Regions from separate parts of the Homo sapiens genome. Here region 2 is linked to region 1. The links come from fine-mapping of genetic effects on gene expression. Tissue or cell type: hippocampus. Region 1 holds a variant in brackets; the other region holds the start of a gene. All regions are shown on one strand. Distances are from middle to middle.

Region 1 (8,104 bases):
ATATCTATCAAGACCTTAGGTCTGTGATTTTGTGCTTTCTTATATGCACAGAAACTGATTTGTAATTGCAGTGAACTTGTAACATACTAATCCTCCTGCCTTTTTACATTACCATAGAAAACGCGAAACCCAAACCTCCTAATCAAACTGATAGCTTCTTTTATCTCTACCTCAGAATATCAACTATAATGATATATATAATTTTGGGTCTGCCACAGGGGCAGAGTCCTCATGGAGAACCTCTGCTAGAGCAGGGTAGAAGTGAAATGTGGGGTTGGAGCCCCCATACAGGGTCTCCGCTGGGGCACTGCCTAGCAGAGCTGTGAGAAGAGGGCCACCATCCTCCAGACTCCCGAATGGTAGATCCATCAACAGCTGTACCATGTGCCTGGAAAAGCTGCAGTCACTCAATGCCAGCCTGTAAAAACAGCAGTGCCGCAGGGACAGAGCTGCCCAAGACCTTGGGAGCACACATCAGAATGCCCTGGATGTGAGATATGGAGTCAAAGGAGATAATGTTGGAGCTTTAAGATTTAATGACTCCCCTACCAGATTCTGGACTTGCATGAGGCCCATTGGCCCCTTTGTTTTGGCCAATTTCTCCCGTTTGGAATGGGAACATTTACCCAATGCCTGTACCTGTACCCGCATTGCATCTTGGAAGTCACTAACTTGCTTTTGATTTTACAGGCTCGTAAGTGGAAGGGACTTGCCTTGTCTCAGATGAGACTTTGAACTTGGACTTTTGGGTTAATGCTGGAATGAGTTAAGACTTTGGGGGACTGTTGGGAAGGCATAATTGGTTTTGAAATGTGAAAAGGGCATGAGATTTGGGAGGGACCAGTGTCAGAATGATATGGTTTGGCTCTGTGTCCCCACCCAAATCTCATCTTGAATTTTAATCCCCATGTGTCAAGGGAGGGACCTGGTGGGAGGTGATTGGATCATGGGGGTGGTTTGCCCCATGCTCTTCTCATGATAGTAAGTGAGTTTTCATGAGGTCTGATGGATTCATAAGTGGCAGTTTCCCCTGCTCTCCCCTCTCTCCTGCTGCCTTGTGAAGAAATTGCCTGCTTCCCCTTTGCCTTCCATCATGATTGTAAGTTTCCTGAGGCCTTCGCAGCCATGCAGAACTGTGAGCCAATTAAACCTCTTTTGCTTATATATCACCCAGTCTCAGGTATTCTTTAGAGCAGTGTGAAAATGAACTAGTATACGTGAATTCAAATGATAATACTTAAGAGACTCATGTCCAAAAGATAACAGGAGCAGTTTTAGAACAAAACTATAATGAAGGATCTAAAGTGCTGTACTGGGTTCTCTTGACTTACCCAGTGTGCAATGTTATGACCTTGGGCAGGCCCCTTTACACTGTGCAACGTGGGATTCAAATGCGATGGTGGATGGAACCTTGTCCTGAACCTAATTCCATGGGAAGCATTTAACATTTCATCATGACATATGTTTGTTGTAGGCATTTGGTACATACCTTTTATTACCTCATGGAAGTATTCTGCTAAGAGGGGTCTGGTTTGTTTGTGGTTTTTGGTTTGTTTGCTTGCTTGTTTTTTAGAGAGACAGGGTCTCATTCTGTCACCTCAGCTGGAATTCAGTGTTGTGATCCTCACCCACTGCAGCCTTCAACTCCTGAGTTCAAGCGATCCTCCCACCTCAGCCTCCTGAGTAGCTGGGACTGCAGGCACATGCCACCATGCCTGTTAAATTTTTTGATTTTTTTTTTTCAGAATGGGGGTCTCACTCCATTGCCCAAGCTGGTCTCAAACTGTTAGCCTCTAGTGATCCTCCCACCTTGGGCTCCCAAAGAGCTGGGATTACAGGTGTGAGCCACTGTACCCAGGCAAAAGATAACTTTGGAACACCACCTGAGAATGTTACTTACAATGAATCCTGTCCTCATTCTCATTTACTTATTTGGATGGAGTTTCCTGAAATTTGTCTCACTATCATCTAGGATCCTTTTTCTTTCTCCAACTGGGAGATTGTGTCTGGTTTGGAAACTGCAAGCCCTGTTCAGGAAAAGGGAAAAGACCCAAGGCACACACCCAGTCCCCAGGTGATCATCAGGCCCAGGTGAAAACTCAGGCCTTAGGTGCACCTCCGGCCTCAGGTGGACACCCAGGCCCCAGGTGATCACCAGTCCCCAGGTGGACACAAGGCCTTAGGTGAACAACAAGACCCAGTAGGCCATCAGGCCCCAGCTGGATACAGTCCCCAGGTGAACACAAGGCCCCAAGAGGGACATAGGCCAAGGCAGACATCAGGCCCCAGGTGGACATCAGGCCTGAGGACGACATCTGGCCCCTGGTGAACATCAGGCACAGGTGTCCAAGCAGAGCCTGGGTGGACATAACTGTGTACGGGTCAGGAGATGACCTGAGGGGAGGGTGAGTAGTCAGTAACCCAGTGGAGTCCTGAGTAGGCTTATGGAAGGAAGGGGCCTAGGGGACAGAACCGTAAAGAAGCGACCTCACTTCCTCGATGATGACACACACGAAGAGAACTTAGAACTCTGGTAACCAGGCACCCATATCCTAGAGTCAGCGCCGTAACCAGCTCACTTTGTGGGAGACGCTCAAGAGAGCAAGATGTTCTCCTGTTGCTTCCCCACTTCGAGAGGTTGCTGCTTCAGGAATGGAGGGAGTGAGAGCCTTTTCCGACAATGCCGAAGAAGGCTCATCCCTCACCCCAGACGCCTGTGGCCCTTTGTAAGAAGGCGCACCCAGGTACCACAGGACAGCCCGGGGCAGGCCCTAGCTGGCCAGGCCACACCAGAGATCCCATCGGGGCTGCCTCTGCACATTGTCCTTGTCCAGGAGGAGATTCGGGAGCCCATGGAGGCACAGACACATGGTGAGGTGGCTGCAGCCTGGAAGACTTTGCGGGGGCGGTGCTTTTGGGCTGGAATGCCTTTGAATTCAGTGAGGTTGTCTCTGTGTTTGGAAATTCCAGTGGAAAGTGACTGATGCTGGTGACCCTTTCTCCTTTTTCAGCTCCTGGTCCGTACGCAGACATAGCAGCACTTGCGGCACCGGCTGTCGAGCCAAAGCCAGCATGGGAAGAGCCCCCTCCAGAGAGAGCGCTGGAGGTGGAGGGAGCTCCAGCCAAGGACCAGCCCAGCCAGGAGCTGCCTGAAATCATGGCACCTACTGTAGCCACTGGCCTTAATGCTGGAGCTGAAAACGTGGCTGGAGAGAGAAGTGGGAGGGAGGGGGTGACAAGCACAGCCCCAGCCAGCAGATCCCATGCTGCCCCTAGTCCTGGGCATGGTGGCAAACATGGAGGCGGAGACCAGGGCATTCAGACTGGACTCCTGTACCTCGCTGGAGAGAGGCTTCTCTCATTCGCCGGAACCACAGCCCTGCTGCTGCAGGGCCTGTTTATTGTGCTAATTCTGGTGGGGTATATCTCTGTGAAGGTGATGCTCAAGAGCATTAAAACAAGGCTGGGAAGAAGAGTTCCAGCAGCTCCTCCTGCTCTCAGACGCAATCTTCTCCTCCAGGCATGGAAGTGTGTCTGCAACTGGGCATCCAGGCTGTTTGCCCCTAATGTGCTGCCCCGAACGGGCTCTTAACAGGTGGGCAGGGGTTGAGGGGACCAGGAGGTGGCTCCAAAGGGTACAGCAAGGAAAGCTTTTAAAGACAGCTGTTGTGCTCCAGGCTCTCCATGCCACCACCTGCCCTAGCATTTATTAATAGTGTTAGAATTACAAGTTTATGAAATGAAATATAAATAAAGTTTGATTTCTGAAACTTCTCACCTTTTTGAACTCCCTAATGTTAGATGGTGTTTTTGAGGCTATCCTGAAAATCTCGGATAGTTGTGTCTTTTGTTGTGGTTGTTTGTGTGGCTGAATTACCATCGAGTCATCTGTTATTGGAAACCTTTCAGGTATGGCTTTTAGAAGACCTTGACCCACTCTTGCCTGTTTTGACTCTCTGGTTTATTGTGGAAAGAGGGATGATGTAGGCTCATGTCTCCGGCAGATCAATCACCTTTTGCCATCAAGGATTTGGCATCAGAGTTTCCAAGAATTATGTGTGCAAATTGACATGCTGGTACTTTAGCTAATCTGGGTGTCAAAACAGAATGCCATAGACTAGGTAGCATAGAAAATTGATTTCTCACAGTTCTGGAGATGGTAAAATCCGAGGTCAAATGGTCAGCAGATTCCGTGTCTGCAGAGGGCTGGCTTCCTGGTTCATAGACAGCCATCTTTTTACTGTGTCTTTACATGACAGAAGGGGTGAGGGAGCTCTCTGCAGTCCCTTTGATAGGGACACCAATTCCATTCATGAGGTCCCTGCCTTCATGAACCGAATCACCTTCCAAGGCCCCACCCCCAAATACCATCACATAGAATCCAACGCATGAATTTGAGGAGGACAATAACATTTGCTTTATAGAATCAGGTCACCCCGAGCCATATGCACTCACAG[G/A]AAATCTATAATCTTCTATTAAGTATTTGCTGGTCCCCTCTGGGGATTGTCTAAACAAAATTGTCTAAACAAAAATTTAGACAATTTTTGTTTTCTTTAAGAAAAATGCTCTTTCATGTGATCCATGGTTTATTCATAGAAAGCACTGTGAGTTCACACACTTGCTAAAAAGAAGGACAATTGCGATACAAAAATGAGAGTGACCTCCCTCTCTCTCTCTCTTTTTAACCAATCAACTGGGCTGAGACATTGTAGGGACCCTTGGCTGGGCAGTAGGACTTGAGTAGCTACATACGGCAAATACAACTTCTTGCTCAGTTTGGAGTAGAAAAGGTGACAGTTTGTCAACAAAAGAAAAAGTAAAGCAGATGGAGAAGTTCTTAGTTCGCATTCTAGCTATACCACCTCTTCCTTATCAAACCCCACCCCCAACTCAGGATCTAACATGTAAAAGAGTAAACACAAAGGCACTGGTAACCAACTGACTCTTCTGAATGCCCTTGCTATCTCCTACAACAATTCCAGGCTGAGCATAGGGGTCAGGAAGGTAGCAGGAACATGATGATACACTGTGGAGGTCAGCCAGGGCTAAGACAGGGCTGCTCATTAGGGCTAGAAATTAAGAAGGGAGAGGCTAAGTGCAGACCAGCCCTAGCCTCCAAGTCAGCACGCAATGAGACTGTGACAAAAGCAGGCAGAGGAAGCTTGACGTAGAAAGGCAGGGGAAGAAAGCAAGTACGGGGCGAGAAGGGAAATGTGCAGTGAAAGCAGCCAATCTGATGGCAGAGGGAGACCGGTGCTTAGAAGCTTGTTTGGTGAGAGGGAATAAATAGAGGAGGCACAGAAATGGGGAACAAACATTTAACTAGTGAGAGAGATTTAAGACGAATGGGAAGAGAAATCTCGCAAAAAGGACACATTCATGCAGATCCTCAAAGATGGACACGCAGTCATCCCTACATGTAGAAATATGCTCAGTTACACATATAAAAACACAGATGCATGGAGAGCAAGCATACACACAGACGCATATCTCTACACATGCACTCCTGTGTGCCCAGATACACACACACTAAACATGCAAAACATGACAGCATTTACACATAGATATGCACCCTCACATGTGTGCAAATGTTACATCCTCACACAGAGACCCACATTCCAGTGTGCACATATCCACACAGGTACACAGCCATAGAACTGACATACATACACATCAACATATAATGTGCACATACAGACAGGCACGCGCAGATATATCTATGCACATAGACACATGTACTCAGTCATGCACATACACACACTTTCTAACACAAAGGTGATCAGTGTAGATGAATATTGTGAGCTCAGTGGCTTCCCAGACCTTCATCTTTTCCCTGCTCTTGTTTCAAAGGTGCTCAGCAGACTCCTGGCGAGGCTGTGTGAGGCAGGGGCAGGACCTTCAGAGTCCTCACAGCTTTGTGAGGCAAAAGTCTGAGTCCAGTCCTGGCCTCTGCTGCTCACCCACCACTGGGCTATTAATGCCCTGTCTGTAGGCGAGAGATTCTGCATAGACTAGTCTTGGGATTTTTTTCTAACTGGCCATTTTTCTCCTTGGCACACCCACTATCCCACTGGTAACGGCACACACTCTGCAAGGGAAACCTGAGAAATGGTTGTGAGTCTCCTCGGACAATAAGCATACCCTCCCACCCACAGCTACCTCAAGTGCCCAGCAAATCAGAACCAAAATTATAAATACTTACGACTTTACAGTAATTGGCAACACATATACTATAGTACTTACAGTACCTTAAATGCATCTGTTTCTCTGGTGAAGCAATCTCTGAGATGGAACAGTGTTCTGTGTTTGCCAAGGGAGACAGGGCCAATGCCCAGGACACTCAGGACGTAGGGGCATAAGGTGGCATATCGTGGGGGTTTCTGGTCGATCTGCAAGGCCCAGCTTCTCCACGAACAGTGGGCTGTAGTGAGAAGCTTGCCAAGGTATGCATACCGACTGGAGTTGGACTCTCCCCATCCTTAGCCCTGTGGTCCTTTGGCCTCAGCCACAGGTGCTCAGAGTCCTCCCAGGGTGGACAAATGTTTCAGTGTTTTTGGCCTGACCTGATACTACCTGGGGACCCAGGCTGCCGGGCCGGTGAGCTATCTGCTTTCTCAGTCAAAGGGCTCTCGAACCAGCAGCATCAGCTTTTTCTTGCCTTTGTAGATCGTTTGTGGTTGTTGATGAACAGGGCAAATTGCAGGTAGCCATCCTAAGGCAGCAGGAGGGTCTCCCGAGCCTTGCTTAGAAACTCAATGAACTGTCCATACTGGCAATGGCTAATGTGTGTTAGGTGTAGTGTGTGGTGTTGATGTAAGCATTGCATCAGCAACTGGTGCCATGGAGCTCTGTCAGTGGAGATGAGCTTTCCAGAGCTGTGGTGGCCCGGGGTGCCGGCCAGGCCAGGTGCAGTCACCGTGCAGCCTCGCACACAGGATGTCTGAAAGCACCATGGCAATGTGCGCACTCTTCACCACCAGGGGGATGAGAACTGCCAGCTCATTCTTGCCCAGAGAGTGGCTGAGGGCACAAACCCAGAGCACATCACTGATGGCTGGGTGGGTATCCTGGTTATGAGCCAGGTGAAGATGGCTCATGGCCAATGAGACCAGCTTGAAGGCGTGGAGCGTGTAGCCCTGGAGCTCCACGTAGCAGGCAATGGTGAACAGCTGTGAATGGGTCATGCCACCGGCAGCAGCCTCGGTGGCAATCTGGCAGGCTGCCTCAAAGGCAATGTGGTCTTTCTCACAGAGTGTAAGGGCTGACAGGGCACAGCTCTGTGGATGCTTCGTAGCACACTGCAGGGCCAGTGTGCAAGCACAGCTGGCCAATTCCTCCCGCTGTGGATAGTCAAGACTGAGGCGCAGGATAGTGGTGTGGGATACGGCTGTGGCAGCTACAATGCTAGCAGCCTCAGTAGGGGTGAAGAGTGTGTGCCAGCTCTGCAAGATGCTCCCTGAGGCCCACACACCTGTCGGGGAGAGCCTGAGCTCAGCCGTGGCCATCTCAGTCCTGATTCAGGTCGGCCCAGATTACCGTGTGGGGTTTGAACTTGGCCTGCAGAGATGAGTTCTCCCTCCTCCTCAGCAACCTTGACATGATCTGAGGCAAACCAGGGCAAGAGAAGCATCCCAGATGGCCAAACCTTGTTTGGGGTCTCTTCCTATCCCTTCCTTACCCAGGTCAGAGGGTTGAAGGTTTCTGCAGGTGCTCTCAGCCCCTCACAAGGATGGAGCAGTAGATCCTGGGGTTTGCTTAACCCAAGGCCAGGGTTGCAGATCTGCCAGGGGTTCTAGCTGAAGTGGGGCCTGTCAGGGTAGAGTCTTGTGCTGGGGCTTTGGGCTTTAGAAAGGGTCCTGAGCCTCCAAGGTGTCTGGAGTTTCTCACAAGCATGGACAGGGACGGGGACCAAACCACCAGGCCCACTACCTCCCAAGGGCACACTTGAGTATTGGCAGCTGAAAATTCATTCTCTTAGACATGTCTCTGATGAGAGGGTCAAAGTGCTGCTGACATCAGCATGTGGTTGGTTTAAGCAGTGAGGACAGAACTTGGGCTGGCTGAACAGAGGCTATCTTCTCCCACCAGCAGCCGCATCCTTTCT
Region 2 (8,104 bases), 570 kb before region 1:
AGCCTGGCCAACATGGTGAAACCCTGTCTCTACTAAAAAGACAAAAATTAGCCAGGCATGGTGCCACGCGCCTGTAGTCCCAGCTACTTGGGAGGCTGAGGCAGGAGAATTGCTTGAACCCGTGAGGCAGAGGTTGCAGTAAGCTGAGATTGCAGTGAGACTCTGTCTCAAAAAAAAAAAAAAAATTAAATCTATAGAGTCAATCTATTGTGTCCCAGGAAATATTGGCCCAGAATAATAATTCCAAAATGTATAACAGTGAGATTTCTGGATTTCATAGACAAAGAGATAATTCTTGGAGCATCATGGCAATTACTTCACTTCTTTGTTTTTTTTTTGTTTTTTTGAGACGGAGTCTCACTCTGTCGCCCAGGCTGGAGTGCAGTGGCGCGATCTCAGCTCTCTGCAAGCTCCTCCTCCCAGGTTCACGCCATTCTCCTGCCTCAGCCTCCCGGGTAGCTGGGATTACAGGCGTCCACCACCATGCCCAGCTAACTTTTTGTACTTTTAGTAGAGCCGGGGTTTCACCATGTTAGCCAGGATGGTCTCAATCTCCTGACCTCGTGATCCACCTGTCTCGGCCTCCCAAAGTGTTGGGATTACAGGCATGAGCCACGGTGTCCGGCCGGCAATTACCTCATTTCTGAGGAAAAATAAACCAGGCTGACTTCTGGTTTCATTACAGCAACACTCAATTCTAGAAGACAATACTTATACATTCTTCAATAAATAAAGTATAACCCAAGAATTTATACTCAAACTTTTACAGGATAAAGGCAACAAATATTTTTAAACATGAAAAACTCAGGGAATATAATTTTCATAAGTTATTATTGTTATTTTAAAGAGATAGGTTCTCACTTTCTTGCCCAGACTGGGGTGCAGTGGCACAATCAGAGGTCACTGCAGCCTCAAACTTCTGGGCTCTAGCAATCCTCTTGCCTCAGCCTCCTGAGTAGCTGGGACTATAGGCACACGCCACTACGTCTGGCTAAATTTTAAAATTTTTTGTAGAGACAAGGTCTCACTATGTTGCTCAGGGTGGTCTTGAACTGCTGGCTTCAAGCGATCCTTCTACCTCTTGTCTCCCAAAGTGCTGGGATTACAAACGTGAGCCACCACACTCTGCTCTATAAATTATTCTTAAGAAACTAAAGCAGGATCATAACTTACCACAAAATGGGTTGGGGAAAAAACTATGGCAAAATAACTGTTAATAATACTTCTGAATCTTTTAACTGTAGGAGTGGAACTAAAACAAACGTGGGATTATGGTTACACAGCAGAATGTATGATTTTATAAACCTACTAACGTGGAAATGGTATAATTAACATCTTTTATATCTAGGAATCCAAATATCTCATTCAAAGCTGATTTAAAAATCAAGTGATAAAGATATTTATAAATGTAGTTAATTAAAAAAGCAAATACTAAAGAAGGATAAAATCATTTACATTAGGTGAGGAGAAGAAAAGGGGTAAAGAAAAAAGAGGGAAATTACAATGTCATTTTTATTCAGAATAGGGAGTTAACAGACAGTCTGAAGAAACTGAGGACGATGTGTATTGCGGAGTATGATTATAAGGCAACTCCCTGAATAAAAATACAAACCTTCCAAATTATCAGAAGAAACACAAAACACAATAAACACAAAATATGCAATGCAAGAGTGAAAAAAGGACCAAAAGGGCTATGAAACAGCATAATATAGCTGTCACATGAATAGGGCTCAACTCATCTATGGCAAGATAAAGATTTTCAGATTTAATCACAAAGCAAAACTTAGTGCTCTAATTCAAGGGATTACCTAAAATAAAGGGTTCAGAAAAGACGAAAACAGCAAAGGTTGTTTGGGGTAACAAACAAAATTCAGCAGGATGGTAAAATATCAGACAAAGTTAAATTCAGGGCAAAGTTTGAACACATTAAATGAGACAAGGAAGGTCATTTTATGATGAAGTGGGAAAATTCCCAAGAATATAAGACAAATGAATATTTATGCACAAATAACATGGTACTATTTATAAAGCAGGACTTCAGAGAAATAAGGAGAAATAAAAACACAATAGTAACAAAAGATTCTAATTTACCTTCTTCCGATTACGTTAGATCAAAATACGTCTAAAAAATAAAGGAGAAAAAATATTTTAAAAAGAAGAAGAAAAAAGCTCCAGTATAACCAAAAACATAAACCTAAGAGCTGATTCTTTGAAAAAAAAATACACTTTTAAAAGTTAACAAAATAAAGAAGCAAAAATACACAAAATAAGATATTTGGGAGAAGTTAAAAGATTCACAAAAGACTACTTTCCTCAACTTTATGCAAATACACTTGAACATCTGGAAAAAAAGGATAATTTGTTTTAAGAAATACATGCTTTATCAAAATTAACTCTAGAATAATTTTTAAAATGTAAATAATAAAATTGCCACAGAAGAAACTTTTCTAGCCTTAAAAGATTTACCCTCCCCAAAGAAAGCATCAGGCTGGGAGGAACATTTTTAACTGGGAAATGATCAAACCTCAAAGAATAGATAATTTTAATGCTCCTTAAATTGTTCAGAGTAAAAGGAAAAAGCAAACATGCCCATTTTTTTTTCTTTTTTTTTTTTTGTAGAGATGGGGGGGTCTCACTGTGTTTCCTAGACTGGTCTCGAACTTCTGGCCTCAAGCACTCCTCCTGCCTCGGTTCCAAATTTTTTATGATGTGAGCATAACATTGATTCTGAAACCAAACAACATTAGACATTCAAAAAGAAAATTATTGCCCATCTCATTTTTGCATATCAATGCAAAGCCTGTAAATAAAATATTAGCAAACAGAATCAAGCAGTATATTTAAAAAAAAAAGACAAGTTTATTGCAGGGATAAACTGGGTTTTTATTAGGAATTTATTATAACTAGGACTCATTACTTCAATATGAGGAAATCAGCTGTCACCCGGTTTGCTCGTCCTTACAGACATCTCCCTCCTCTTCCTCTCTTCCTTTCCAGTGAAAATGTCTTCAAGTTTCCTCTACCAAACCAAAACTTCACCCCACTTCTTTTATTCTTTCCTCCTCTCTTCTCAGAACAAAGGGGTTGTTGCTGACCAGCCCAGGGTTTCTTATTTGGGGCCGGATCATTCTTCCTTGTGGGGCAGTCCTGTCCTTCAGGTAGGATGTTGAGGAGCACCCTCGTGTCTACCCACTTAGGCAACAGTAGCAACTCCCGCATCATGACAACCAAAAATGTCTCCAGACCTCCCCAAATGTACGCGGGGCGGCGAGGAGGGGCAACACCGGCCCTGGTCGAGAACCGCTAGCCTAGGCTCGCCCCTCTACCTGGGCGCCACAACTTGCCAGGGTTGGTTATTCTCCCTGGATCCTTTCCTTCCTCCTCATTTGAGCTTCACGCCCTCAAGTATGACCAAAGGTTCTGTCATTCCACTCCTGCAGTTTTCATTAAGGTCTTAGGCCACTTCCATGTCAAGAAACACAGTGGCTCTTTCTAACCCCTGGCCATGAGGCACCCCTGGAGGAGGAGCCGTGAGGGTAGGGAAGATGCTGAGGGGGATGTTGACCTTGCCGACTTCCAGGCGCCTCCGCTGCATCCCGGAGGAGGCGTTGGGCGGTGAGGGTGCAGCGGGGGGGCGGGCCCCGCAGGATGAGGTGTCCGTGTGCGGCTAGCGCCACAGGCAAGACCGGGCTCCTTGCGGGGCGGAGGTGAGGCCGTGAGCATAGCTCTCAAACTGGAGGGCGCCTCAGAATCACTTGACGGGCTTGCGAGAATGTGGACTGCTGGGCCCCACCTTCATGGTTTTAGTGCAGGAAAAACCGAATAGGCTGGGTGGGACGGAGAATCTGCATTTTCTCAAGTTCCCAGATGAGGCTGAAGCTGCTGGTCCGGGCACCACCCTTAGAAAACCTCCAGTGTAGAGTGCGGAAATGGGGTCCACATCTGGCTTGGGACGCCCAAACATCGATTATGTGCGACCAGAGGATGAGCAGATAGGGAGATGAGACACTGAGAGCTGGGAGAGAGGGGGCCCCCGGCCGCCGGCTGAAGGAGGACGGCGCAGGCGGCGGTCCGGGTACTACATCTCCCAGCGAGCCCCGCGCGGCTCGCGCTCGCCCCCTGGCGGCGATGGCTGGAGGCGCCGGCGGAGCGCGGGTCCCTCTCCTGAGCATCAGTGAGCGCCCGGAGCCGTGGCCGCTGGGGGTTGCGGCGGCGCTGAGCCAGCGGGGCCGGTGAGTACTAGCCGCGCCGCCAGCCCGCCCGCCGGCCGGCTCTTTGCGCCTCAGCCGCGTGGTCTGAAGGGATGGGCGGGCGAGCGCGGGGGTCCGGCAGTCCGTCGTGGGGGCACGGGACTGCCTTTCTGGGAAGGCGTGCTGCGTCTTCGCCGCGGGGGCCCCGGTCCCCTCGTCGCGTGTCCTGTCCCCAGCCCAGGAGGGACGTCCTGGCCTGTCCTGCCCGGCCCGGAGCGGTGGGACCGGTGCCGCAGGTGGCAGCGGCAGGTGGCCGCCTCCTCCCCTCCGGGCCCGAGGGTTGTCGCAGGGACCCGGGACTGAGAGCCAGGTGGCTCCCGACAGCTGCGGCCCTGGAGGCGACCCCAGCCCTCGCCGCAGTGGGACAGGTGCGCGGGCACGCCCGGCCCCGGCTCCTGGGTCTCGGGAGCCTCCCGCACCCTCCCTGTTGTGCCTTGGGGGTGCTGCGTGGTGCAGAGGACCGAGAAGCCCTTCGCCCTCGGCGTCCGCCGCGCTCCCGCCCCTTCCTGGCCGGGGTGACAGGGGAAGGGCTAGGGCTGCGCATCCCGGGTCAGCTGGGGCGCCGCGGCGCAGTGCACCTGGAAGGCCCGGGGGCAGCGCGCGGTGCCCGTGGGTTTCCCGGTGGTGCGGACCTGCGGGCGTGCGGAAGTAACGACCTCCTTCCCCAGTGCCCATGCAAGGAAATTAGTGTTATGTGCTTGCTTTTTTTTTTTTTTTTTCCTAAGGAAGTTTGACTCTGAATATCTTATTTTGCTGGAGCTCCATTTGCCAGCACGTAAGTTTATGTAATAAGCGGCATACAGTTCGGAAAAAAATTTTCCTGTGAAAGTGCTCTTCCTTGCCCTCTGCAGGAAGAATTACGCCGAGCTGGTTGGCAGGCTTATCCACCAGCAACTGTAGGAGCTGCAGGCAGCAGATAAAGTGTTTTTTGAGTAAGGGCACAAGTCAGCCCTTCAGGACAATTTTTGTTTTTGGAAGATTCTGTTATCCAGTTCCAAACACCGTGTTATTTCAGTGTTGAAGATGGGGGAGGAGGGAGGAGCACAGGCTTGTCAATCCTAATACCTCAACAGAAATTAGCTTTGCAGGATTAACTCTCCAAGCAAGCGAGTTGAATTTGGTAGCCCAAACTACAGCTGAAGCTGAGCCTCCATACTAAAGCCTGTCTCAGTTTTAATAGTTTTTCGCTTGATTCGTTTGCCTCTTCCAAGTAGGTGATCTTATTGTCTGTTAAACAACAGATGTCTCTCATGTTTTTACTTTTTTCCTTGTCTTCCATAGATTACTCTCGCTGCAGTGTTGACTATTGAGGTTAAATAGGAATCTTTGTCTTGGGCTTGGTTTTAGGGAGCATTCCCTCTGTATCTTCACCGAGTGTATTCTATCACATTAAGTACATTTCTGTTTATGCCTAATTACTAAGAGTTTAAAAAGTCAAGGGTGGGTGTTGGGTTTTTTGCCCAAATGCTTTTGTGTAGCATGCATTGATATGATCATGTAGATTTTCGTCTTAAAATTGTTAACATAAGTGGTGGTCACATTGCTAGATTTTCTTTCTCTAAAACCCTGGGCTAATTTAAAATGCACTTTTGGATTGTTCACATCAATAAGCTAGCATCTTATTTAGGGTTTTGGTATCTGAGTTTGGCATATAGTTTACCCCATTTTTATCTGTGTTCATAACAAGGATCAGGCTGTCCTCTCTGATTAAATTGGGAAACTTTCCATCATTTTCTATGCTCTGGAATAGAAGAATTATCTGTTCCCTCAAGTTTGGCAGAACTTGACTGCAGACTGCCTGGGCTGCTGCTGGTGTTGTTTAGGCAGTTAATATCAGTATTTAATTACCTTTTCATTTTTTTCATGATCATTTATTTTTCTCAGTTTTTCTGTTTCTTCAAAGTAAATTTAATATTTTCTGTTTTCCTAGAAAATCATTAACATTATTGAAATTTAATATATGCTAGCATAATGTTGTATATAGTATTCTGGTGTAAGAAAACAGACTCTTACATATCTGTATGTATCTGTATGTTCTCTTTCTGATACAGTACTTTTTTTGGTACCTTTTCTCTTTTTTTTTGATCAGACTTGCTTAATGATTATTTTATTAATCCTTTCAAAGAACCAGCTTTTATTAACCAGGATTTATTGATTAATTCTATTGATTTTTTATTTTTCTATGACATTAATTTCTGTTTTTTATCTTTCTACTTAATTTGAGTTTATTTTGTTCAAGTTTTAACTGTTTGAATGGAAAACCTGGCTCATTTATTTAATCAGTCCTGTGAACAAGGCAAGGACTTCTAATTCTTTCATTCCACTTACCTCACATTTGGCCTTAATTGTATTTTTACTTCAACCCTTCCAACGAGACATTATTGCTATTGTTTTTGTTATTTTCTAGGTCAACATTTATTAGCTTTATCTACCTGTTTACCATTTCTTCACTTTCCATTCCTTCTTGTATCACAGATACTTTTCTTTGGAACATTTTTCTTCTCCCTCAAGTACATTCTTTAGAAATTACTTCAGCAATGATCAATTTTCTGTTTTTGTAATATCTGAAAATGCCTTTATTCTCCCTGTATTCTAGAATTTTGGTTTCACCATGTGTCTTCTATTGATTTCAGAGTTATTTTTGTATTTTTTTATATTTTTAAAAAGATGTTTTGTAGCTGGAAGGTTTTTAGGATCTCTATTCTGCCACAGTGCTGAAAGAAAAACAAAGATTAAGAACAGATTAATTTGCAGTCCACTGTCAGTCACGACTGTTCCCTGAACTCTTAGTATATTGGGTATACAGTTCTATATTAATCTCAAGTTTATTGATGGTAATTCAGGTTTTCTGCATCCTTAACTTATTTTTTTTCTCTGTTTGACCTGTTGATATGGAGAGTTGTATTGAAGACTCCCATTATGATTCTTGTAGGGGTTTTTGTACTATTTCTATGTTTAATATATATTTTTCTTTAAATGTTGTATTTTTGAAGCTGTTTTATGTGCTTAAAGGTTCACAATTCTTGTATCTTCTTGGTGAATTGTACCTTTTGGGAATAAACGAGCCATCTTATTTAATTTTTTTTTTGTTCATTCTCTTTATATTGCTGTACTTGCTTTTTGTTAGCATTTATATGGAATATCTTTTTCTAGTCACTGATTTTCAATTTTCTGTGTCTTCTTTAATTGTTACTCTTACCATTAGCTTATGGCTGGATTTTGTTTAATTAGTTAATCTTTGTCTTTTAATAAATATTGTGGTAAAATAACATAAAATTTATTATTTATTATTTTTATTTTTACCATTTACTACTTTTAAGTTTACAGTTCCCCAGTGTTAAGTGTGTGCACATTGTTATGCAACCAATCTCCAGAATTTTTTCATCTTACAAAATTGAAGCTCTGTATCCATTACCGCAGCCCCTGGCAACCACCATTCTGCTTTTTGTCTCTATGAATTTGCCTATTTTAGGTACCTTGCATGAGTATCTAATATAGTACCTCATATAGTATTTGTCTTTTTATAACTGGCTTATTTCATTTAATGTAATGCCCTCAAGGTTCATCCATGTTGTAGCATGTGTCAGAATTTTCTTCATTTTTATTGCTAATTAATATTCCATTGAATGTATACACCACATTTTGCTTATCCATATATTTATCAAAGGATATTTATGTTGGTTCCACATCATAGCTATTATGAATAATGCTGCCATGATCATGGGTGTACAAATATCTCTTCAAGACCCTGCTTTCAGTTATTTGGGTATATACCCAGAAGTAGAATTGTTGGATCAAGTAGTACTTCTATTTTTAATTTTTTGATGACCCAGCATAGTGTTTTCCGCAGAGGC

The links. PIP is the estimated chance that this variant, and not a neighbour inherited with it, causes the effect.
Region 2: it holds the start of SPECC1-DT, and the variant in region 1 is fine-mapped to the expression of SPECC1-DT in hippocampus (GTEx, PIP 0.99).

Annotation. Positions count from the first base shown.
Region 1 is chr17:20,577,138-20,585,241 of GRCh38, forward strand. CDRT15L2 (CMT1A duplicated region transcript 15 like 2) reads left to right here and starts at 2,587. Exons shown (of 2, transcript NM_001190790.2): 1 at 2,587-2,871; 2 at 3,012-3,774. The coding sequence starts at 2,607. The coding sequence ends at 3,592. LOC105371580 (a long non-coding RNA gene) reads right to left here and starts at 2,554. Exons shown (of 4, transcript XR_934315.4): 1 at 1,901-2,554; 2 at 1,490-1,715. It also overlaps the pseudogene ZSWIM5P2. RefSeq lists enhancers at 1,750-2,748, 7,097-7,634. The variant G/A (reference allele first, on the strand shown) is at 4,458.
Region 2 is chr17:20,005,193-20,013,296 of GRCh38, forward strand. It overlaps SPECC1-DT (SPECC1 divergent transcript), which reads right to left and starts at 4,068. Exons shown (of 1, transcript NR_186461.1): 1 at 2,863-4,068. It overlaps SPECC1 (sperm antigen with calponin homology and coiled-coil domains 1), which reads left to right and starts at 4,167. Exons shown (of 15, transcript NM_001243439.2): 1 at 4,167-4,232. RefSeq lists an enhancer at 2,969-3,536 and silencers at 3,969-4,638, 4,659-4,838.